Homo sapiens: one gene and its partners. The protein of the gene in region 4 interacts with the protein of the main gene of each other region in a biochemical or structural test. Each region holds a gene or a part of one and is shown on either strand. Other genes may lie near its edges. The genes, in order: RAPGEF2, PPFIA1, PLXNB1, HTRA3, RNF146, ATP2A2 and CD226.

Region 1 (3,500 bases), about 150 Mb from region 4:
ACGGGTTTAGGAGTCAGGCGGACTGGGGATTGAATCCCTGTTTTGCCACTTTATTAGTTTTGTGACATTGGGTAAAATACAAAACAGTGCCTGTTTCCTCATCTGTAAAATGAGCTTCATAATTTCTACTTAATGGAGTTAGTGTGAGGATTCAAGGAAATTTATGCAAAGTATTTAGAACAGTGCCCAGATAGTAGATTCACTAAGTACATGAAAGCTATTGCTGCTGCTGTTCCTGTTAGAAGAGGCTCTCATGCGCCCTCAGTCCTGTTGAGATGTGTTTTCTATGGCACAATTAACATCTATATAGACGAAGTGTAGGAACAGATGATAGGTTGTAGAGTGAGAAATTCTGGAGTATAATCATTACGGACATTACTTTTATTAGTAGGAAAATTGTAGTTATTTAGCCATGTAAATAGTCATGGGTAGATTTCAAGTTTAATATCCTTTTACAATGAATAAGGAGAAAACAGTTAATAAATATTCTTAGGTTGGACTTTTTCAAGTGCTTACAACTAATACTCAGAATTTTTATTGCAAAGGAAGGAAGAATGATTTTTAGTTCCTAACAATTGAGTTTTAAAAGTTCAAGAAAATGAAACTTTAGTTTTACTGGCCTATACAGGTTTCATATTCTAGGTCATGAGCATCAATAAAGGGATTTTAAGAAAAATAGACACCTTATAGTAATAGTTTTAGAATTTTTAAATTGGTATCCTTTGTGCGACTTTTCCAAATTTATTTTAATTCACTGTTTCTGTAAGTGAAGTCTTGAGACCCGAGAGTGATGTAGAATTGCTTCTCTGCCTGGTAAAGATAAATGCCCAGAAAGAGGGCAGATCCGGCAGGCAGAGAGGAAAAAGGGAACTTGTACCAAGCACAAACAGGTTCTAGGCATAGTGCTGTGTACTTAGGTTCTTCCTGTGCTTCAGTCTTTCCAATAAATCCAGGGGTTAGGTTTTAATCTTACTATTTTATAGTTACAGACCATTTTAAATGGACAAGCAGCCCATTTAAAGATAAAAGTACTTAGATGGACTAGCAGCTTCTCTCACCAATTATTTCACCACACAAAGATAACATCATTGTGAAATTTGGTTTAGTTAACATGCATTCCCTGGCCTGCCTCACACCGCACCTCTAACCGATACCATGCAAATGCACATCTGCTGCTACACTGTGGATGCTGTTTTAGTAATTATTTTTATATTTTTAATAAACTTTTGTGGCATGAACTAGTTTTTAATGCTGGTGCATTGTTTCTACTCTAGCACGAAAGGAGGGCAGGTATCGAGAGCCCCCGCCCACCCCTCCCGGCTACATTGGAATTCCCATTACTGACTTTCCAGAAGGGCACTCCCATCCAGCCAGGAAACCGCCGGACTACAACGTGGCCCTTCAGAGATCGCGGATGGTCGCACGATCCTCCGACACAGCTGGGCCTTCATCCGTACAGCAGCCACATGGGCATCCCACCAGCAGCAGGCCTGTGAACAAACCTCAGTGGCATAAACCGAACGAGTCTGACCCGCGCCTCGCCCCCTATCAGTCCCAAGGGTTTTCCACCGAGGAGGATGGTATATGCACATAAATATTCCTAAAACCTCCAAGTTAGATGTGTTCACTTGTGCTGCTTCCCAAGGCATTTCTGTTCTCTTAACACTGCAGTCAGCTATGTCTAACCATATACTACACAAAGTACACTACATTCAGAGTTCCAAATTTAGGGTTACAGCTGTTGACTGCTTTCTTTTGTGTGTGTGTGTGTGTTTCCTTAAATGGCTTTAAAAATGCCAAAGATTATGGAGGGAGTCACTTAAAATACAGTGTGTATATAACTGGTTTTCTTCTCCAATTCTCACTAAAATTTGATTGCTTTCTGTGTGTCTGTGTATGTGTGTTTCCCTAAATGGCTTAAAAAATCCCAAAGATTATGGAGGGAGTCACTTAAAATACAGTGTTTATATGACTTGATTTCTTTTCTAATTCTCGTTAAAATTGAAGTACTTCTGTGACCCTATTTTAAGAAAAAGAATAGGCCAGGTGCGATGGCTTACACCTGTAATCCCAGCACTTTGGGAGGCTGAGGAGGGCAGATTACTTGAGCTCAGGAGTTTGAGACCAGCCTGGCCAAAGTAGTGAAACCCTGTCTCTACTAAAAATACAAAAATTAGCCGGGTATGGTGGCAGGCACCTGTAATCCCAGCTGCTCGGGAGGCTGAGGCAGGAGAACCACTTGAGCCCGGAAGGCAGAGGTTGCAGTGAGCCAACAACATGTCACTGCACTCCAGCCTGGGTGACAGAGTGAGACTCTGTCTCAAAAAAAGGAAAAGAAAATGAAAATTTCACAAGTTTGTGCTGTTGTCAAGAATTTTAGAAGCATGTAGGATTCTCAAAGGTGGATGGTTAAAGTTTTCTGTGGAAACATTATATTTGCGCTTTTAATGAATTGGGACTCATTTGGAAATGAAAGTCTGATAAAGAAAGATACATTATCAGCCAGCCTGATGGCTCATGCCTGTAATCCCAGCACTTTGGGAGGCTGAGGTGGGAGGATTGCTTGAGGCCAGGAGTTCGAGACAAGCCTGGGCAACATAGTGAGACCTGTCTCCATAAAAATATTTTTCAAATGACCCAGGCGTGGTGGCGTGTGCCAATAGTCCTAGCTACTATGGAGGCTGAAGTGGAAGGATCACTTGAGCCCAGGAGTTCAGGGCTGTGGTGACCCATGATTGTGCCACTGCACCGTAGCCTAGGTAGCAGAGCAAGACCCGGTCTCTAAAAGAAAGAGAGAGAGAAGGGGAGGGAGAAAGGGAAGGAAGGAAGGAACCCACATTCTTTATAACTCTTTGTGCGTTCTTTCTACAAATCTATCTGACCATGCTGAATTGAGAATGAGGAAGGAGAACATGGCCTCCCATCTTCTTTAAAGTTTTCAGTTTAACATGTTTGATTACACAATCATAGAAAAAAGCAACACGTGACTGGGAGATTGGGAGGCCGAGGCAGGAGAATCGCTTGAGCCCGGGAGGCGGAGGTTGCAGTGAGCCGAGAACACTGCACTGTGGATGGCAAACCCACACCCTGTCTCAAAAAAGTTAAATTAAATTAAATAAATAGAAAAACATTACAAATGAAAATTACTTAAAATCCTGTCACTTGCAGATAGCCACTATTAAAATGTTGTTATATATTCTAGACTTTTTATGTGTATCTGATCGTATATTTTTTTTAAATGGCACATGCTATTTTACAACTTTTTAAAATGAATTTAACAACTTTCTGAACAAAAATATATAATGCATATCTTTTTAATATTGTGTGTATATATGTAAAGATATGTATTGCATACATTTTAACCTTTTTGTTGTTCGTCATTGTTTAGGAAAAAAAGACAAGGATTCTAAGTGAGCTATACTAAAAAGAATAACTATGATAGTTTTATTTAGCACATCAGTGAATATATTCTCTATAGCACAAGAAATTACTTGCTTGCT
Region 2 (3,500 bases), on a different chromosome or scaffold from region 4:
GGAGTTTTGCTATCTTTACTTATTTCTCTTATGTAAGGTATTTTACACTCATATTCAATTTTTTGCTTTCAGCTAATGATTCTTAAAGAACAGAATAATCAGAAAAAAACTCTAACAGATGGAGTGCTGGACATAAACCATGAACAAGAAAATACACCAAGCACGAGTGGAAAGGCAAGTCTGTAGGCTTTGTCTTTATTCTGTTTGATTTCATTTGTTCACAGTATGTGTCGGGTTATGTGGAAAACAGTTGCTAAAGTACCGGCTTAGAGCTGAAGTGGTCATGAAAGTTGTGTAATCCAACAGATTGCATAAGTCAGTTTTGATTTTAGCTATTTCCTGGAAGTATTTTTATTTTATAGCTCACCAAACAAGGGTATTTAAGGATTTTTTTTTCCCCCTATCAGAGATCTTCTGATGGTTCTTTAAGCCACGAGGAAGACCTTGCTAAAGTAATTGAGCTCCAAGAAATCATAAGTAAGCAGTCAAGGGAACAGAGCCAAATGAAAGAACGCCTGGCTTCCCTTTCCAGTCATGTGACAGAACTGGAAGAGGATCTGGACACGGCTAGAAAAGATCTCATCAAATCTGAAGAAATGAACACAAAATTGCAACGAGATGTCCGTGAAGTGAGCAATAACAAAAACTACAGTCTTGTCATGAAGTTGTATGTTTGGGACGTTTTAGTTAAATGATTTTTTTTCTCTGTTTGTCTCTTACTCTCCCAATTACTTTCAACCTTTGGATTATTGTATAAGTTATATTGAAAAAGAGAGAGTGCTGTGAAACTGCCATAAGCTACCTCCCCATTTTTGTTGTGAAATCTCCTGTCCCTGAGCTCTTCAAAGTAGAGAACTAGTCCCACTGACTGACATGGCCATGAAGTGGACGCCACACTGGCCTCTCCTACCTGTGCTGCTTTAATATTCTTTAATGTCCTTGTTTGTAGATTCTTCATCTGTGCAATTTCTAGGCTGTCTTAATTTGTTCTTATGTTCAGATTGCCTTCTGTTGCACACATACTTAGCAAGCAGATATTGATACTGGCTGTGCTAGCTCACGTAGGGCAATGTGAGTATAGTCTCTTAACTGTGGGAGGGGGCGTTGCTGGCGGTCTTCTCATTTTCTGACCTGCTCCTTCAAGGAATTTGTGGCGTTGAATATTAATGGTCAAACAATCAAGAGTGGAATTTGCTTCTACATGGGTCATCAGGATCGTATAGCAAAAATATGTCACAATATACTCATTGCTGACAAATATTTCTGCCATTATAACTGTGAGAAACTATTTGATCATGAATGCCGGGCGTGGTGGCTCACGCCTGTAATCCCAGCACTTTGGGAGGCTTAGGCGGGCGGATCACGAGGTCAGGAGATCGAGACCATCCTGGCTAACACGGTGAAACCCCGTCTCTACTAAAAAATACAAAAAAATTAGCCAGGCGTGGTGGCGGGCGCCTGTAGTCCCAGCTACTCGGGAGGCTGAGGCAGGAGAATGGCGTGAGCCCAGGAGGCAGAGCTTTCAGTAAGCCGAGATCGGGACACTGCACTCCAGCCTGGGCGGCAGAGCGAGACTCCGTCTCAAAAAAAAAAAAGAGAGAAACTATTTGATCATGAAACAGTGAGGCTGAGTGCTTTCTCAGGTGCCCTTCCTGTCACTTTCTAACCTGCGCTTTGTCCCTTGTCAGGCGCCTCAACCGTTGAATGTCTGCTTTTCAGTTTGGTAGTTTGACGTTGAGTAATTTCATGTAGGAATTCACCACAGGAAGAACATTTGCATGTAGTATGTCACCTAAGGTTCTATTCTTTGGCTACAGCAGGAGATTATGTGGCAGAGATTAATATGCAGAGAATTTTGAAATTCTTTTAAGACCTATCACTTTTATTTTTTAATTTTTTATTTTAACTTTTAAGTTTGGGGTACACGTGTAGGTCTGTTACATAAGTAAACTTGTGTCCTGGCGGTTTGTTTTACAAATTATTTCATCACCCAGGTACCAAGCCTAGTTATTTTTCCTGATCCTCTTCTTCCTCCTATCCTCCACCCTCCACCCTTTGATAGGCCCCAGTGTGTGTTGTTCCCCTCTGTCTGTCCCTGTGTTCTCATCAGTTAGCTCCCACTTATAAGTGAGAACATGAGGTATTTTGTTTTTCTGTTTCTGTGTTTGCTAAAGATAATGGCCGCCAGCTCCATCCATGTCTCTGCAAAGGACATGATCTCATTCTGTTTTATGGCTGCATAGTATTCCATGGTGTATACGTACCACATTTTCTTTATGGAGTCTATCATTGATGGGCATTTAGGTTGATTCCTTGTCTTTGCTGTTGTGAATAGTGCTGCAGTGAACATACGTGTGCGTGTGTCTTTATAATACAACGATTTATATTCCTTTGGGTATATACCCCGTAATGGGATTTCTGGGTTGGTATTTCCATCTTTAGGTCTTTGAGGAATCTCCACACTGTCTTCCACGATGGTTGAACTAATTTACCCTCCCACCAAGAGCAGGAAAACATTCCTTTTTCTCCACAACCTCACCAGCATCTGTTACTGATTGACTTTTCCACAATAGCCATTCTGACTGGTGTGAGATGCTGTCTCATTGTGGTTTTGATTGGCATTTGTCTAATCGGTGATGTTGAGCTTTTTTCCCCTATCACTTGTAATATTTAGACTTTGCTAACTTTAGTCATTTTATAAATAGGGAACAACTTGAAAATAGTGAATTCTGGGGGTGGAGGACAGGTATTTCTCAAGCAAAAAGTTCTGGTCCTAGCCTTAAGTGTTTGAAACTGTATAGTAATCATCTTGTAGACTTCAGGTAGTTGCATCCAATTAAATTAAACTGGTACTTCTGTTTCCATTTGTCAATATGCTTGAGTCTTGTAATTGTATGAGAGTTCATCCAACCCTTATCCTAGAAAGTGAGACTTGTATCTCACTACTGTGTCCACTGAGAGAGGCCGCACCCTGTCCTGTGTGAGACCATTTGTAGCGTGAGGCAGACGTAGACTGCGTCTTCTTTGAGGACACTTTCACCTCCTTGAAAAATATTTAGATATTTGAGTGTATATATTTTTATAATATTATGTAGAAACAGGAAAGCTTGGTCAACTGAGTGGCCAGACATAGTATTAAGAGAGACAAGTCTTTGTTAATCGTATAGGTGAATATTTATGGTATTTGAGGTAGTTACATTTTCATTCACATTTGAGAAAATTGACATCTTCATCAATTTAATTTTGAGGACATTATTATTTATTTATTTATTTTTGAGACAGGATCTCTCTCTGTTACCCAGGCTGGAGTGCAGTGGCGCCATCATAGCTCACTGCAGCCTTGAACTGCTGGACTCGAGCAATCCTCCTGTCTCAGACTCCCAAGTACCTGGGACTACAGGGGCGTGCCACCATGCGTGGCTAATTTTTGTTTCTTTAAAATGTTTTTGGCCAGGGACACTGGCTCACGCCTGTAATCCTAACACTTTGGGAGGCCAAAG
Region 3 (3,998 bases), on a different chromosome or scaffold from region 4:
GTGTTCAGTCTTGGGCAGTGAGCATGGCCCAAATGCCCCCCACCCCAGGTTCTCAGCACCTGGTCCCTCAGTCAATCTATCCTTGGCGAGTAATGGCTCCCCAGAATGGCATGGGATGGAAAGACCCCTGTGCTTAGAGTGTTCACATTCCTTGTAGGGCAGGAGGTAGCGTATCTGTGTACAGATGAAAGGGGTTGTGGGGTTTGGAAGTCCCAGTTTCCTCTGGGGTGAGATAGGTCCTGAAGTGTGTGCTTGGATGAATGGATTTGGGGAGGGAGGGATTCTGTGCATGTGGAGGGGGCTGCTACAAGCTACATAGGCAGGAAAGCCAAAGTGGGTGAGGGACTGGGGCAGACTGTCCTGGCTGGGGTGGTGATGGGTGTGGGGGAGTTGTGCAGAATGATGTCACAGGCCCGGGGTGCCAGGTTGGCAGTCTGAGGTCAGAGGCTAAGGGTGAGGGATCCAGGGAGGGATTGCTATGCTGGTGCAGACAAGGTGCTAAGCACCTGGACTCAGGTGCTGGAAGTGGGAGTGGAGGAAAAGGGGTGACCTGACAGGAGACCCTTGATAGCTGGTGGGAGGTGGGAAGAGGGTGTCTCTAGCTCTAGGGCAGTAGCCAGTGTGGATGACCTGAACCTCCTGATTGAGGCTCCCCTAGCCTGTGGAGGCCTTGGAGGCTTTCAGATGATGCCTGTGACGTTTTTGCCTCCCAGGAAGCTGTGCCAATGGCTTTGAGCCAAAGTCCTCCAAAAGTCCTAATAGGATGGGCCAGGTTCTGGTCCTGAGTTAGCCGTGGGCATGCCAGGGTGTGAAGGGCCCTGCACAGGGTACAAATGGTCCCCAGGAGAGAACCTTTCTGCCAGCGTTTCCTCCCGCAGAAGGCCCAGGTGTTTGCCAGTGAGGGAGCCCAGACTTGCCCAACGCTTCTCAGCTTGGGGTGGGTCCAGGTCTGGGTCCTGGGCTGGGAAGAAAGGAAGGAAGTGAGCCCTTGCTTGTGCGCCTCTGCAGCCCAGGTTCCCTGCCTTCACAGCCCCGCTAGAGGTGGGATCACCCCCACTTACTGGTGAGCAAATAGGCTGGGGGGGGTTGGTGTCAGGTTACATGGTTTAGTTGATGGCGCAAGCCCAGGTCCAAAGCCCATGCTCTTCTCAAACAGCCAGAGGTGGGGGCCGGAAGGAGGGATTGGCTGTTGGGGAGTAGTGGGAGCAGGGGCGGTGAGCAGGGGCGGTGGGCAGGGCCAGGTGCGCAGGGGAGAAACAAGGCGCCTTGGAGTTCAGGTAAAGAAAGTTGGGGAGGATGACCACCGGAGCCGGGTAAGGAAGGGAAAGGGAGCTCCGGGCGCGGGGCGAGGCCGGGCGCTGGCAGAAGAACGGGTCGGGCTGGTGAGGGACTCGGGTGCTACCCGGCTCTGGACGGGCGGGAAGAGGCCGGGACGCTGTTCCACCAGCACCTGCGGGTGCGGAGCGCGACCCCCCGCCTCGGCTCCTGGCAACCAGGAAAGTTCCCAGTTCCGGTTCCAAGGAGGCGAGCAGGTGAGGCCGACGGGGCGGGGCGGCTCTGGCTCCCGGGGTTCACTCCTCACCCCTCCGGGCGACCCGCGTTGCCATGGCGACCGCCGCGGTGCAGCCCGCCCCCGCCCTCCCCCGTGCGGGAGGGGTCGGGTCCCCAGCCCTCGGCCGATGCGGAGCCCGCGGGGCTGGAATGCGGGGTCCCGGGCGGTTCGGGGCCGCGCGCCCGGCTCTCCGGGCTGCTTCCGGCCTGGCCCGGGCGGCGGGCGGGGGGAGGGCAGCCCGGCAGGCGAGGGGGAAGGAGCGGAGACGAGCCCGGCCGACGCGGCTTTGTCTCCTTTGTTCCCGGCGGTGGCAGCGCCGCGCGGGAGGGGCGGGCAGCGGGCGCAGTTTTCCGCCCCTCGGTCTCCGGGTAACAGCTGCGGCTCCGCCAGACCCGGGGAGAGGCCGCTGCGCGCGGAGCCCGAGCCCGGAGCGGCCGACGCCCGCCTCGGCGCGCACATCCCGCGGGGCCCGGCCGGGTGGTGAGTGCGGGGCTCGGGGCCAGGGCGGCGAGGAACGGGGCTCCCGAGGTGGAACGGGCCGGGGCCCCGATCCCGCCGGGCAGGGGCGGCCTGGGTGAGTGGTGGGCGGCTTTGGTTTTGAGAGTTGGGACCACACTTCTCCGCGCGAAGGGAAACTCTGGCGACTCCGCCTGGAACGCGATTGGGAGACTGAGGAGGTGGAGCTGCTCCTCCGCGCCCCCTCCTCGCCGTCGCCGCCGGGGACCGGCCGGCCCCTTCCCCGCCCTCCCAGGGCCAGTGATGGGGTCCTCGCCTCGGGGTCTGGGGGTTGGGGAGGGTCAAGGACGAGCCGAGTGGGGAGGTCGGGGCTTCCCCTCAGTAGTAACAGCCCTTTCTGGCTGCTCCCGGTGGGACTGACAAAGGCGGACCTCGAGCCTCCTGACCCCCGGGCGGGTGGGGGGGACCCTCCTCTCCACACACAGACATATTAAGTGGGTGATCGATGAGCGCCTTGGGTCATCGCAGGTGCCTGGTAAATGGTGGATCTCCCCACCCCTCCTCAACACACAGAAAACAGGGCGGGCAGCGGGCACCACTGCACTGTCAATGAATAACTCACCTCTGTAGTGAACCCTGGGAGCTGAGCAGGAGGGTGAAACGGGAAGGCCGGTTTCCCACTAACTGGCAGGCAAGGCAAATGTGGGCTGTCCTATGGCCCCTCTGCAGGTGCGGAATGGCGGGGTTTGTGAGCCCCTTTTGTTGTCGAGGACAGCTCCACGGGGGTCCGGGAGGTGCTTGCTCTACAGACAGAAGTTGGGCAGTCTTGCGCCCCCTGAAAAGGTTCAGAGTAGGGTGGCCCCAGAAGAGACTCCAGGGCATGTGTGGGGGAGCACTGGGCACAGGCAGAGTTAGGCTTTGGCTGTGAGTCTGAGCAGGGCCTCAGATATTGGGAATGGGCAGGAGATCCTGGCTGTGTAAGTTGGGGATGTGAGGTCTGGTTCTAGATCAGCCTTTTCAGTCTGCCCTGGCCTGGTCATTAATAAAAGTGGGGCCAATGTGTTCCCTTTGAGAGACCAAGTGGCTTGGAGGGATTGTGGGCCCCCTATCTCCCCTACTTGTTGGGTTTTCTTGGGTGTGAAATGGGGGTTCGTTCACCATACAGGGAGCATCTGGTCTGTGCTGAAGTCTGTGTAAGTTGCTGGGGCCTCTGAATCAGAAGCCATACTCCCTGCCTTCAAGGAGCTTCAAGTCCAGAGTAGGAGGGTGGAACAGGGAGAAAGGTGACCCTGGTTGGCATCACTAATGCCAGGCACACACTGTTTCATGTTTACTGGTCAGAGCAATCCTGCCTCCCATTGTACAACTAGGAAATCTGAGGCTCGGAAAGCCTGAGGCAGAGCGGCCGTGCCTGTCAGGGTGGTGGCTAGGTGTGTCCATTCTGTCCACCGCATGCAGCGGCCTCCTCAGGAGCCTGGGAGGACAGGGGAGGCTCCCCAGGGAGAGGATGGTTGGTGTAGGAGTTAATGGGATAGCGAGGGAGTGGGCATTCCAGGCAGCGGCAAGAGCCTGTGCAGCGGTTGGAGGAGCCAAGCAGCCTGCAGTTCAGGCTGGCAGGAACGAAGGGCATGTGTGGGGGAGCACTGGCATGGATCGGGTGGGAGAGGTGTGGACTGGAGGGGTAGGCCTTTATCCCTCCCGCTCTGGGGTGCCCCAGAGGCTCTTGGGGGAGGGGTGTACTCAATTCTGCTCAAGGAAAGTCCTGAGAAGTTGGGAGTTGGGAGGCTAGATTGGAGGGGCTGGGAGCTGCTCAGTGGCCTGTGGCAGAGATTAAGTGAAATCCATGTGCCTGAAATGGAGGAGAAAAAGTCACTGCTCTTCTTTCTGTCCTCCTTCCGACACCCATGGTATGTGTGGAGGGGCAAGGGGTGCTAGGTCCTGATTCACAGGGAGACTGCTGGCAGAAGCCTGACCACTTTCCCTGGAGTGG
Region 4 (3,500 bases):
GACATTGCCACCATCAAGATCCATCCCAAGGTGGGTGGGCGTGGGTGGAGGGGCGGAAGCACCTGGGGCTGGGCATGGTGGCCTCTTCCCAGACGCCGGAACCCAGAGGCAAGCTAGCCCCACCTTCCATCAGCCAGGGGGAGGAAACTGGGCCCAGGGAGGACTGGCAGCTGGCCCAGGGTCACGGCTTGGAAAAGACCTAGAACCCAGGTCTTTGGACTCCTTGTCCTGCGCTCCCTGAGCCGCTAGGTGCAGGGCAGAGCCAGGAAGCATGTGGCCCACAGTGGGTGGGCTGTGGTCCCATATCACACCCCACGGAGGCTCTTCACTGTCTTACCTGGGCCCACTACTGGGGATGCACCTGCCCCATGGGATGGCATCTGGGTTTGGGCGTGGAGGCCAGGGGGCTGCCGTGGGGAACACTTGGGACAGGGACCCCATCCCTCCACCTTCACGTCTGTACCTCCCACCAGCTGACCCAGAAGAGGCCTGCACTGAGGCCCCCAGAATCCTCTTCTTCCTCCACCGGCTGTTTCTGGAAGGCCTGCTCTCAGCCAGGCGCTGACTGCACTCCTCTAATTCTCACCACAGGCCTGGGAGGAAAGGGCCTGTATGAGTCTGTTTTCACACTGCTATAAAGAACTACCTGAGACTGGGTCATTTATGAAGAAAAGAGGGTTCGTTGACTCAGAGTTCTGTAGGCTGTACAGGAAGCATGACCAGGAGGCCTCAGGAGACATACAATCATGACGGAAGGCAAAGGGGAAGCAGGGACATCTTCTCATGGCAGAGCCGGAGAGAGAGAGAGTGAAGTGGGACATGCCACACATTTTAAAACCATCAGATCTCGTGAGAACTCACCACCATGAGAACAGCATGGGGGAAGTCTGCCCCCATGATCCCATCACCTCCCACCAGGCCCGTCCCCCAACACATGGGGATTACAATTTGACATGAGATTTGGGTGGCGACACAGAGCCAAACCATATCAGGGACCTCATTATCTTGGGATTTCAGACGGGGCAACTGAGGCTTGGAAGTTAGGTAACTCGTCCAAGATCACAGCGCACTGGAGCAGGGCTGGCCCGCTCAGCTAGGACCCCGGCCTCCCTCCAGCTTGTTCTTGTCTTGCCCAATGCCATGCTTATGTGACCCTGGGGACCACAGTTGAGTTACTTGCAGCTCCCCATGCCATGAGGTCACTGAGTCCCATGTCTCACACCAGCGTTGGACCCGGAGCTTCCCTTGGACTGGGAAGTTCACCTTGGCTGGTTTGAATTTGGCTTCCTCTCTTTCTGAATGAACGTTTACAGCATTTGTGATGAAATCTTTTGCAAGGGGGTTTCCTCTTGCCCCATCAAGGGAGAGGAGATTTAATGGTTCCAAGGAGTTCCCCTAATGGGGACCCTTCCCTGCTTTTCAGACTTTTCACGGTCGCGATTGAGTCTGGGGGCATCACCTCCATTTTAAAGTTAAGGAAACCCACTGAGGGGTGTGCTCACGGACAGGAGTTGGCAAATTTTCTTTTCTTTTTTTTGAAATGGGGTTTTGCCCTTGTTGCCCAGGCTGGAGTGCAATGGCGTCATCTCGGCTCACCACAACCTCCGCCTCCCGGGTTCAAGCAATTCTCCTGCCTCAGCCCCCCGAGTAGCTAGGATCACAGGCATGTGCCACCACACTGGCCAATTTTTTTGTATTTTTAGTAGAGACGGGGTTTCTCCATGTTGGTCAGGCTGGTCTTGAACTCCCAACCACAGGTGATCCACCTGCCTTGGCCTCCCAAAGTACCGGGATTACAGGCGTGAACCACCGTGCCTAGCCTTTTTTTTTTTTTTTTGAGACGGGTTCTTGCTCTGTCACCCAGGCTGGAGTGCAGTAGCAGGATCTCGGCTCACTGCAACCTCCACCTCCCAGGTTCAAGTAATTCCCCTGTCTCAGTCTCCCAAGTAGCTGTGACTATAGGTGCATGCCACCACCCTCAGCTAATTTTTGTATTTTTAGTAGAGATGGGTTTCACCATGTTGGCCAGGCTGGTCTTGAACTCCTGACCTCAGGTGATCCCCTGCCTTGGCCTCCCAAAGTGCTAGGATTACAGGAATGAGCCACTGCACCCCACCCCCAAATTTTCCTTCCTTCCTTCCGTCCGTCCTTCCTTCCTTCCTTCCTTCCTTCCTTCCTTCCTCCCTTCCTCCCCCTCTCTCTCTCTTTTTTTTTTTTTCAGGGTCTCGCTCTGTTGCCCAGGCTGGAGTGCAGTGGCACAATCACAGCTCACTGCAGCGTCAAACTCCTGGGCTTAAGGGATCTTCCCACCTTGGCCTTCCATATAGCTAGGACTACAGGCATGCACCACCATACCTGGCTAATTTTTAAATTTTTGGTAGAGATAGGGTCTCGCTGTATTGCCCAGGCTGGTCTAGAACTCGTGGGCTCAAGCAATCCTCCTGCCTCGGCCTCCCAAAGTGTTGGGATTACAGGTGTGAGCCATGGTGCCCAGCCAACAAATTTTCCATGAAGCCAAATGGTAAATATTTTATCTTTGCAAGCCCTGTGGTCTCTGTCACAACCACGCATCTCTGCTGTGGCAAAAATGCAGCCTTAGGCTGCACAGGTGGGTGTGGCTGCGTTCCAGTGAAGCTTGATTCACAAAACAGGCAATGGACAGCGTTTGGGCCTTGGGCCAGTTTGCAACCCCCGCTCGAGGACCCCTGTGGGAAGAGGAGAGCGAGACTAGGGGCAGGTCTGTCTCCCCTTCCGGCGGCTGTGGCAGAATGCTGGCAGGACTGGTGGGGTGGTATCCAGGTGGGCCTGAGCAGGACGCCCCACCAGCCACCTGTGGCAAATGGGTGCCAGCAGAGCTAGTGTGATTCATGTCCTGCAGGCCCTGGTCAGCACCCATGGCCATGAGCTGAGGTGGGAAACGCCCTCCTAGCCCCTAGGCATTAAATCGAGCCATGGGAAAGGCTCCTGACCCTCACCTGTGCCCCCTCCTTGGGTGCAGGGAGGATGGCTGACCCTCCCCAGCTCACGGCCTCACCTGTGCACCCTCCTTGGGTGCAGGGAGGATGACTGACCCTCCCCAGCTCATGGCCTCACCTGTGCGCCCTCCTTGGGTGCAGGGAGGATGGGCTGACCCTCCCCAGCTCATGGCCTCACCTGTGCGCCCTCCTTGGGTGCAGGGAGGATGGGCTGACCCTCCCCAGTTCACGGCCTCACCTGTGCACCCTCCTTGGGTGCAGGGAGGACGGGCTGACCCTCCTCAGTTCACGGCCTCCCAGAGATTTCAGACGTTATTTCTGCCTCTTCGGCCGGTCAGCAATGGAAAATGTCATCTCTCCGGGCCCTCACCTTCCAATGTGCAGGCCTGGTTCCGCCACCTGGCATTCTCTCTGCCATTGACTGAAGCTTCTTGAGCACAGAGAATAGAGGAGCGGCCTGAGTCTTTCCCACACCAGCGCCCGCCCACCAAGGGCTCCCGTAATCCTGTGCGGGGCTCCACGTCG
Region 5 (3,500 bases), on a different chromosome or scaffold from region 4:
GATTTCATGTAGAACATTTACTGTTTTGTGTATTTTGAATAAATGGCAAAAATCTTATTAAACATTAGCTGTTAATAATTAGAAAAATACAGTAAGTCTTCAAATATTTATAATTGATATTTGTCTTTGTTTTTATATGTATTTATATTGATGTTATATGCTCATCTTTTTCTTTGATTAAAGATAATCGCTTGCTTGAATCTATTACCTGAAAAAAACTCTTGACTTTGATCTTGTGACTGACTTGAAAAGTGGGAGTATGAGTATTTTGAGTTGTTACAAATTATAAATGGTACAATATTACTTCATTTTTAGTTGTATTTATTTTTCACTTATTTGAATGGGTCAAGATTTAAATTCATTGATAATCCCTAAACCCCTTTGTGTATTTTTAAGTTTTACCTGTCACTGTTTTTTTCCTCCAGAATTGTTAGGGGCAAAGTATCTAATTTGGTTTTAGACTTTTTCTTTTTTTTATGTTACCTTCTTCATACATCATCATATTAAGTTTGGTGTAAAATTTACAGGTCATTCATTCCAGTAGGAATTATGTATGTTTGAGTTATTTATGTTTGGCAAATTAATTCTGGCCTGTAGTTGAAATCATACTGTTCTGTTTTACATCCCCCTATTGGTTAAAATAAAAGCATCCCTTCTCCTCCAACTTTAAAAAAACTTTGGTTTCAAATAATGTGGGAGTTTTCTGAGGGCTTCTTCACATGATTGTTATAAGTATTACATGTATGCCCTATTTTGTGCCCAGTTGAAATTATAGTTGACCATTGAACAAAGGTTTGAACCGTGTAGTTCCACTTATACAATACTTTTTTTTTCTGCCCCTGCCACCCCTGAGAGAGCAAAACCAATGTTTCTTTCTCGTCCTCCTGAAAAAGATGAAGGCCTTTATGATGATCCATTTCTACTTAATGAATGTAAACATATTTTTCTTCCTTATGATTTTTTTTTTTTTTGAGATGGAGTCTTGCTCTGTCATTAGGCTGGAGTGCAGTGGTGCGATCTTGGCTCACTGCAACCTCCACCTCCCAGATTCAAGAGATTCTCCTGCCTCAGCCTCCCAATTAGCTGGGACTACAGGTGTGCGCCACCATGCCCAGCTAATTTTTGTATTTTTAGTAGAGACGGGGTTTCACCATGTTGGCCAGGATGGTATTGATCTCTTGACCTCATGATCTTCCTGCCTCAGCTTCCCAAAGTGCTAAGATTACAGGCGTGAGCCACCGCACCTGGCCTCCTTACGATTTTTTAAATAATGTTTTCTTTTTTTTAGTTTATTGCAAGAAAACAATATATAATACAACATACAAAACATATATTAATCCACTGTTTATGTTATCAGTAAAGCTTCCAGGCAATAGTAGACTATTAGTAGTTAAGTTTTTGGAAACTCAAAAGTTTACATGGAATTTTGACTGCGCAGGGTGTAGACATTCTTAACTCCTCACATTGTTCAAGGGTCAACTGTATAAATTCTGAGAGTTAATAGGTGATGGGTCAGTTTGGCAGAATTGGGGCTACCTAAACCCATTAACTTTGATTATAACAGAATATGCAGTTTTCTTTTTTAATGTGTCTTCGGCAAAAGTCTAGGTAAATTAACATTGAATTCATTGTCTCTATTAAACAATTCCTGTAGTGACTTGTCAGTTTTGTATTTAACAAGATTAATATGCAAGACATTCTAGACCAGCATTGCCCAGTAAAGTAGCCACTAGCCACATGGAGTTATTGAGCACTTGACATGTATCCAGTCTGAATTAAGTTGTGCTGTAAGTGTAAAATACACACTGGATTTCAAAGAAGTATGCATACGCTTACCCAAGAACATAAAATATTACATTAACAATTTATATTGAAACATACTGAAGCAGTAATGTAGAAACGTTGGATTAAATAAAATATATTATTGAAATTAATTTTACCTGTTTCTTTCTATTATTATTTTTGTAGAAATGGGGGTCTCACCATCTTGCCCAGGCTGGTCTATAACTCCTAGGCTCAAGCCATCCTCCTGTGTCACTACCCACAAAGTGCTAGGATTACAGATGTGAGGCACCATGCCCTGCCTCTTTTTATTATTAATGTGGCTAATAGAAAATTTGAAATTGCATACGTGGCTTGCATCATATTTCTATTAGATAATACGTGACCTTTTCTGTGAGAGACAATACATTGTAGAAAGACATTTTTAAAGGTAAATTTGAATTTGAATCGCATCTCCCAATATTGATGGCTTTGACTTTGGGTAAGTCATTTAACTTCCTGAGCTTAGGCTTCCTCATTTGTGAAATAGGTATAGTCATATTTCACAGGGTTGTTTTGAGGATTCAGTGACATATGGATTTGGTAGTGTTTCACTAACTAATATATGTGAATCACTTGGAGATCTGGTTCTGTAGGTCTAGGGTGGCACTTAGGATTTTCATTTGTGAAGAGCTCCCAGGTAGTGCTGATAGTACTAGTTGGGAATCCCAGTTTGTTTGTATAGCTAGGATCTAGAGCATTATGTTAGTTTTAATTCATTTTCCTTCCCCAGCATTTATCCAGTTAGTCTGCACTTTGAAAAAATTATTCATGAGGATATAGAAATTGAAAAAGTCACCAAAGCATGCAAGATTTACTAAAATTATATGAACTGTGGACTCTTAGGGCTGCTGTAGGATTCCTGTTTACATCTGTTAAGTTTTTTGTCTGCTTTTATCTGGAGTCACTTTTATTGGTTGCATAAGATGGCTAAATCTCAGCCAAGAAGAACCTGGTTGTGTTGTTCTACGCAAATGTATTTTTGAAAGATAATGCATAATGAGAGGTGAAATAAAAGAATGCTCAAAGACAATAAGAGGGCAGTACAATTGACCCTTGAGCAACATGGGGTTAAGGGTGCCAACCCCTTGCACAATTGAAAATCTGAGTATAAGTTTTGACTTCCCCAAAATTTAACTACTAATAGCCTACTGTAAAGTCAGTTAACACGTTGTTTGTTATATGCATTACATACTATATTCTTACAATAAGCTAAAGGAAAATAAATTCCTAAGGAAGAAAAAATACATTTACAGTACTGCATTTACCGATACTGTGTTTATGTTACCTGTTTATAAGGTGTCTGTCTGAAATGATGGGTAACTGCAGCTGCAGACCCATCTAGGGTGTGTACCAGGTAATTTAACTTCTTGTAATGGCATGACTTCTTGGCTTCTTGGGAGCACTTCTAGCATCACTAGTGGCACTTCACATGGGTCCCATGGTGTTATTCAAGGTTTATGGTATTGTACTAAACATGATGAAAAATACACAAGAACAAGAGATTACATTTTACTCCAATACATGCAGAGATGATTAGTGTCCACAGCATTTTAAGTGGAAATTCATAATAGCAACAGGAAATTATTACAGTATGTACTACAATTAATTTTATACAGCTATGATTCATACTGCATCTTTACATTTGTTTAAATTTCTTGTACCACCTCAAGTGGCAC
Region 6 (3,500 bases), on a different chromosome or scaffold from region 4:
GCTACTCGGGAGGCTGAGGCAGGAGAATCACTTGAAGCTGGGAGGTGGAGGTTGCAGTGAGCCAAGATCGCACCACTGCACTCCAATCTGGGCGACAGAGCAGGACTCCGTCTCAAAAAAAAGACAGCGAAAAGGTAACAAGCTTCATGAACAGCAGCAAAGAAAAGTAAAAGAGAAGACCACTGCCCCATAGTTTTGGACATAAACAGTGTTTCTTCTTCCCTTTGCTTTGTGCTAAATACAATAATACCTGTCTTCTGGGACATACATTATCAAACAAGTTCAATGCTTCAAATGTGCCAGTATTATTCAAAGTAACCACTTGCTAATGAACACTCAACTACATTAAACTGTTAAAAATAGAGTAGGGATAGAGTATCTCCCAATTATTATCCACAAGATTAATCTCTGTACAGCACTGAAATACTGTACAACACTCTGTACTGCATTATACTTCTGATAAGTATACTAAAGCAAAAAAAAAATTTTTTTTTGAGACGGAGTCTCACTTTGTCACTCAGGCTGGAGTGCAGTGGCGCAATCTCGGCTCACTGCAACATCCGCCTCCCGGGTTCAAGCGATTCTCCTGCCTCAGCCTCCTGAGTAGCTGGGATTACAGGGACCCACCACCACGCCTGGCTAATTTTTGTATTTTTAGTACAGGTGGGGTTTCACCATGTTGGCCAGGCTGGTCTCGAACTCCTGACCTCAAATGATCCACCCACCTCGGCCTCTCAAAGTGCTGGGATTACAGGCATGAGCCACTCACTGCACCCGGCCAAATAAAGCAAATTTTAATCCAAGGTAAAAAGCACGTTCTGCTGTAAACTGGGAGACAGTCATGATATTGTGACTCAGATATCTATACACTGTGATAATAGGAAGAGCTCTTAGTATCATAAAAAGAAAACGAAAGAAAAAAGTGCTTAAAAAGATCATAAGCACATTTTGCTCCTAGTATTCTCAGAAACTTGCACTGTGCCTTTGGGCCCTCAAACAATTGCTCAATAAATGAAGAAATTTACATCAAGTTTTTTTTTTTTTTTAAATAAAGAGGAAATGGAAATTAAACATTTCGAGAATGATACAGAGAATTACCAATAAACGTTACGATAATTTCTGGGGGAGGACTTTCAGTCATTAATAAAACGGAAAAAAAAGCATGAATTAGAACTCGTTCCCTTCTGATCCAGATATAAAGCTATGTAAAAACATTCAATGCTTTCAGGCATGAGAAAACAATCTTTTTAAAAAGTACTCTATTAAATCCACCTTTCAAGTCATTATTTTAAGAAAAGCTCTGAATAAACTAGTTAAACCAATCAGTAATTTGCCCTTCTTATCCCATTTTTAAAATCAAAAATTAAAAGATACAGAAGAAAATTAAAATCACTACAAATCCAGTATCAAATGCTTTGAGTATTCTCTTCTGAGAAACTACAGTAAAAAGATCTCATGTATTTTCAGAAAATTCTACTGAAACAAACTCACCCAAGTTTTTGTGACATCAAAAGCACTAACTTAGGCCAGGCGCAGTGGTTCATGCCTGTAATCCCAGCACTTTGGGAGGCTGAGGCAGGTGATAACCTGAGGTCAGGAGTTCGAGACCAGCCTGGCCAACAAAGGTAAACCCCATCTCTACTAAAAATACAAAAATTAGCCGGGCGTGGTGGTGGACATCTGTAATCCCAGCTACTCAGGAGGCTGAGGCAGGAGAATCACTTGAACCCAGGAGGTGGAGGTTGCAGTGAGCCGAGATTGCACCACTGCGCTCCAGCCCGGGCAACAAGAGTGAGACTCCATCTACATTTAAAAAAAAAAAAAAAAAAAAGCACTAACTCAAGGGGGTCTAGTAGGAAGAAAAGAGACACACACATGCAAATGGTCAAATGTAACCTAAAGGTTGAGAAGTACCACAGTCTAGAAAGTTTTATTAGCATTTTAGGGTCAATCTAAGTAGCTGACATGGGAAACGACGGTGGAAGGTAGAGAAACCTATGCAAATTATTACCATATTAATTATGACTTTATGATTTAGACAGATGGGAGACCAACATGGCCCTAATGCCCACCTCCTTCAGATCTTTTCGCAAATGTCACCTTCCTCAAGAACTTTCCGGACCACCCAATTTGAAAACTGTTCCCCCTTTCACATACTCTGATATCCAAACCCCCTTGCTTTATTTTTCTCAGCAGTATTATCCTCCAGGTAAGGGTCTCTGTCTGTTTTATTCACTACTGTATCCCCAGTGTCTGTGACAGGTGCTCAATAAATATCTTAACAAAGCAGGAAAAGAGAAGAAAGGGCAGGCATCAGTTAAGCAACCATACGATGTGTTACATTTAGAACAAAGTTGGTAATCAAGAAGAGAATGAAAAGATAAAGTGAATGATAGAGGGGGGGTCTTCAGTGTCAAATTAAGCAATTTCTAATGTTCATATGCACTGGAAGATGAAGCTTATTTCTTTCAATCCAAGTGACCGTTTCAAAAAAACACTTTGGCCAATATTACAAATTAAACTAGATCCCTACAGGTCACAAGCATAGCTTCCTATTCTATGCCACAGCAAAATATTAACTATAGTTAACAGTTTACTACTTAGTTTGATATTTGAAGTAAGTCACTAATATTCTTTTTAATTTAAGCATGACTTGATGACGCATGATGTATATAAGAATCGCCTAGTCACTTCTCCAAAAAAACCTGAATATTCTACCATGTTTTTTCTGTTACATCAATAGGAATAAACTGACACAAAAAGAGAGTCAGTGCTCTTTCTTTTAAAAGATACAGACAGGAGGAATGAAACACTAAAGACAATGCAGCAGCAGTACCCAACCCCACATGAAGAAAATCAACACAACAGGTCTTATATCTGCAATTCCTTGATCAAACAAACCAAAGCAAATTAATTCTATAGAAGTACTCCCTAAACACTTATTCTTTTGCTATTTACCAACTCATAAAATAAAAATGTAACACAGTTCATTTCCTGAGCAGTAACTCCACAGTTACCAAAAAGGAGCTCAAATTTCAACTCCAAAATATAGCTCTATAATGCTCCACAAAGCCAAGGTCCTATCTTATAAAAAAAATTAAAGCATTTATTTAAAAACCTGCTTGAAATGCTTACAAACTATAAGCCTCTAATTACTTCAAAGTAAAAAATGAACAAACAAAACCCACACACATCATTAATTTAAAATGCTAATATAAAGTCACTCAAACTGGCCACTCAAAAAACAGACCCAGTGCAACCCCAATAGTAACACCAGTGGCATGGTTTCCCACACTGCTTCAACTTGTAACACAGAGAATTCAGTAAAAATGTATTTTGCTTCTGGCTTGTAGTCAGCTGATTAATTTTTAAGAAGTTCCCAATGACCTTATCGGACCCCATTATTTAACTGCCAACGCTATTATGTACCCAGTTAAATACAAATCTTACACTAGCTCCAAATGTATCATTTATTTTGCCCCATGACAATGTATTGATAA
Region 7 (3,500 bases), on a different chromosome or scaffold from region 4:
CATATTTATTTAAAAAATAAATATGTGCTTCATTTTGGATCATGATTTATAAAGATGAGCCAAAGAGCAGCCTAGACGAGAGCAAGTCATATGGAATGGAGTCCAGCAACAGGAACCCTAGTGCAGTATCAGAAAGTCAGGGCAAAGAGACAGGTCAGAAACCACGATAACAAAAAACATATGTGTTAAAATGTTTATACATGGAGATCGACTTCTGCCTTTAGTGTCATCATGTTAAGGCATGGAAGATGTTGCTGCCATGCTTATAACAAGACAAAGCTGGAAAGTTGGAAAGCTGAAAATCAATGACTTTTCTTATTAGACCTATTAGAGAACCAAGGTCCTGAGCAAACTGCCACCCCAAAATCTGGAGATACAGATACATCCAGAGAGATACGCAACCAATAGCCATTTATCTGGAGTCAAAGCACTGGAGCCATAAACTAGTATGAGCCTTTATATGGTAAGTTGGGTGAATTGCTGGCATCTGTTTGTGGACTGGTGTGAGCAAGAAACCCATGGGGGCTGTGCTCTTGAGGCACTCCACACATTCAAGGGCTTTTCCAGTAGGAAACTCCAAGGTTCTCATTATGAGGATCCAAGAAAAATTTCCTCGTGGCTCTGGCAACAGATAGAGAGGGACATCCATTGAGAAATAAGCCATGAACCTTCTTGGTAACAAAGATGGAAAGGACTCTGCCAAGCACAATTCCCAAACCTCATCCCAGCCCCTGAAGTCTCCCTGTCCCACTTAAGGAAAGAGGGAAAATAACAGTCAACAGGGGGCAGGCCTTCAAAGAAATACATTGGGAATGCTGCAGCCAGGAAAGAGAGTTGAGGATGAGGAAGCAATACCACTGGAGAAGCTCTGTGAATGTCCCAGACACAGACCCACTAAAAGACTGAGATTTCACTGTAAGATTACAGAGCACTCTCCTTTCCCACAGCTTAGTACTACACCAACAGGGCTCCAGTATAGTAACAGTGAATTGCAGAGGAAAGAGCTGAAAGACAGAAAGTCTCTCTGAAGAGGAGCACTTAGGGAAGCCTGAACTCAAGAAGGGGAAAAACACATGAACAAACAAAACAAAGACACTAGAGGAATTTGAAGAAATTTAGCACCTATGGTTATAACAGACTTTAAACACAGTCTAATAGTTAGTCAGATTAAGATAAGTCTGCAAGCTAAAGACTTATTTACCTGTTCCTATTACATAACACACCAGATCTGGCTTGCAACAAAAAATTCAAAAAAAATGTCAAAGAACGTCAAAAGGCAAGAAAAGTCATGGTCTGAAGAGATAAAGCAATCATTGGAACCAGATAGAGACATGACACGTGTCAGAATTATCAGACATGGAACTTATCATTAATATGTTAAGAGCTCTCATGAAAAAAATAGACAACAGATGGATAATGTAAGAAGAAAGATGGAAACACTAAGAAGGAATAAAAAAGAAATGGTAGCAATAAAAAACATAGTAATAGAAAGGAAGGATATCTTTGATGCAATTATCAGTTGACTTGGAACCCCGAAGGAAGAATGAATGACTTTGAAGCTAGGCCAATAGAAACTTTTCAAACTAAAATTCAAAGAGTGGGAAAAACCCAGAATATTCAAGACTATGGAATAATTGAAGAAGAAGAAAGAATGGAGCAAAAGAATGTTAGAAGTAATAACGTCTGGGAACTTGCCAAAATTAGTGATAGACACCAACTCAGGTAGCTCAGATAACACTAAATAGAATAAATACCAAAAAAAAGAGGGGAAAAGGAGAAAAACCTAGGTTGATCAATGAAAGATATGCCACGAGAGAAAATTAAATCATGTAAAAACCCCAGTTAAAATCAGAGAACACAGAAAAAGGAGGATAAAAAAGAAAGAACGAGTGCAAGGATAGAAAAGTTACAAACATAGTAGATATTAATCCAACTATATCAATAATCACTTAAATTTGAATAATCTAAATGTACCAATTAGAAGTGGTGGGTTTAAACACACAAAAAAGATGAATGTTAGAGGTGACAGATATCACGATTACCCAATATGATCATTACATATTGTATACAGGTATCAAAACATCACATGTACCCCCCAAATATATACAACTCCTATATATCTACAACATTTTTAAGTAAGAAAAGTGGGGAAATTACAAATAGACGCAACTATACATTGTCTATAAGAAAGGCACATTAAATATAAATATTTAGATAATTTAAAATTAAAAGGATAAAGATGTGAGATGCTAATGTTAATTTTTTAAAAAACTGAAAGTTATGTTAATATCAGAAAAAGCAGACAGAACAAGAAAGATTATCAAGAATAAAAGGGACATTACATGTGGTAAAGGGGTCAATTCTCCAAGAAAACCTAACGATTCTGAAAGTATATGTACTAACAAGAGTATCAAGATACATGAGACAAAAACTAACAAAACTGCAAGGAGAAATAGAAAAATCCACTATTTTACTTGCAGTCTTTAACGAGACTTGATCACTTGATCTGTCAGTATGTGATAGATCAAGAAGAGGGAAAATCAGAAAGGATATAGATAATCTGAACGGTGGTATCAATCAGTTTAATCTAATGGACATTTGTAGAATATTACACTCAACAGCAGAATGAACATTCTTCTTAAGATCACATGAAACATTCTACAAGATAGACCATATTCTGGGCCATAAAATACACCTGAAAAATTTAAAAGAATAGAAATTATACAAAGAATGTTTTTAAAACATGATGAAATTAAGTTAGAAATCTGTAAGAGATATAAAGTAGAAAAATCCCAAAATATATAGAGATTAAACAACACATTGTAAATAATTCATGGCTCAAAGAAGAAATATCAAAAGAAATTTTAAAATATTTTGGACTAAATGAAAATAAAAATAGAGCTTACCAAAACTTGTGGAACAAAGTGAAATTTATAGCATTAAGTGCCACTATTGGAAAAGAAAACAACATATAAAATCAATAATCTAGGCTTCCACCTTAAGAAACTAAGGAGGCCGGGCGCGGTGGCTCACTCCTGTAATCCCAGCACGTTGGGAGGCCGAGGCGGGCGGATCACGAGGTCAGGAGATCGAGACCACCCTGGCTAACACGGTGAAACCCCGTCTCTACTAAAAATACAAAAAAATTAGCTGGGCATGGTGGTGGGCGCCTGAAGTCCCAGCTACTCGGGAGGCTGAGGCAGGAGAATGGCGTGAACCTGGAAGACGCAGCTTGCGGTGAGCCGAGGTCGCACCACTGCACTCCAGCCTGGGCGACAGAGCGAGACTCCGTCTCAAAAAAAGATAGCTATTCATTAGACATTGAAAGAATTATAAAATAGACATACAAAATTACAGAAAGGTTAGAAGAGTAATCTCTATCTCTAGAAGCTACTGAGCCATTACATTTCTTTGTACATTTTTTATGTGAGCTAAAATCAAAATTTGCTTCTGAGGACCATTATACGATAAAAATAAAGTGTGGGATAAATCAGCTCAAC

The links.
Region 1: the proteins of HTRA3 (region 4) and RAPGEF2 interact in a test that uses a peptide from one of them, tested with the Homo sapiens proteins (one large-scale study listed by IntAct).
Region 2: the proteins of HTRA3 (region 4) and PPFIA1 interact in a test that uses a peptide from one of them, tested with the Homo sapiens proteins (one large-scale study listed by IntAct).
Region 3: the proteins of HTRA3 (region 4) and PLXNB1 interact in a test that uses a peptide from one of them, tested with the Homo sapiens proteins (one large-scale study listed by IntAct).
Region 5: the proteins of HTRA3 (region 4) and RNF146 interact in a test that uses a peptide from one of them, tested with the Homo sapiens proteins (one large-scale study listed by IntAct).
Region 6: the proteins of HTRA3 (region 4) and ATP2A2 interact in a test that uses a peptide from one of them, tested with the Homo sapiens proteins (one large-scale study listed by IntAct).
Region 7: the proteins of HTRA3 (region 4) and CD226 interact in a test that uses a peptide from one of them, tested with the Homo sapiens proteins (one large-scale study listed by IntAct).

Annotation. Positions count from the first base shown.
Region 1 is NC_000004.12:159,354,579-159,358,078, forward strand, and holds part of RAPGEF2 (rap guanine nucleotide exchange factor 2), read left to right. Parts: intron 1-1,274; coding exon 1,275-1,580; intron 1,581-3,500. UniProt on the Homo sapiens protein: Functions as a guanine nucleotide exchange factor (GEF), which activates Rap and Ras family of small GTPases by exchanging bound GDP for free GTP in a cAMP-dependent manner.
Region 2 is NC_000011.10:70,326,190-70,329,689, forward strand, and holds part of PPFIA1 (liprin-alpha-1), read left to right. Parts: intron 1-72; coding exon 73-174; intron 175-407; coding exon 408-629; intron 630-910; exon of another isoform or gene 911-1,065; intron 1,066-3,500. UniProt on the Homo sapiens protein: May regulate the disassembly of focal adhesions. May localize receptor-like tyrosine phosphatases type 2A at specific sites on the plasma membrane, possibly regulating their interaction with the extracellular environment and their association with substrates.
Region 3 is NC_000003.12:48,427,287-48,431,284, reverse strand, and holds the start of PLXNB1 (plexin-B1 precursor), read left to right. Parts: upstream 1-1,198; 5' UTR 1,199-1,277; exon of another isoform or gene 1,278-1,532; intron 1,533-1,940; exon of another isoform or gene 1,941-3,998. UniProt on the Homo sapiens protein: Receptor for SEMA4D. Plays a role in GABAergic synapse development. Mediates SEMA4A- and SEMA4D-dependent inhibitory synapse development. Plays a role in RHOA activation and subsequent changes of the actin cytoskeleton.
Region 4 is NC_000004.12:8,286,754-8,290,253, forward strand, and holds part of HTRA3 (serine protease HTRA3 isoform 1 precursor), read left to right. Parts: coding exon 1-30; intron 31-3,500. UniProt on the Homo sapiens protein: Serine protease that cleaves beta-casein/CSN2 as well as several extracellular matrix (ECM) proteoglycans such as decorin/DCN, biglycan/BGN and fibronectin/FN1.
Region 5 is NC_000006.12:127,269,864-127,273,363, forward strand, and holds part of RNF146 (E3 ubiquitin-protein ligase RNF146), read left to right. Parts: intron 1-3,500. UniProt on the Homo sapiens protein: E3 ubiquitin-protein ligase that specifically binds poly-ADP-ribosylated (PARsylated) proteins and mediates their ubiquitination and subsequent degradation. May regulate many important biological processes, such as cell survival and DNA damage response.
Region 6 is NC_000012.12:110,284,247-110,287,746, reverse strand, and holds part of ATP2A2 (sarcoplasmic/endoplasmic reticulum calcium ATPase 2), read right to left. Parts: intron 1-3,500.
Region 7 is NC_000018.10:69,853,874-69,857,373, forward strand, and holds part of CD226 (CD226 antigen isoform a precursor), read right to left. Parts: 3' UTR 1-3,500.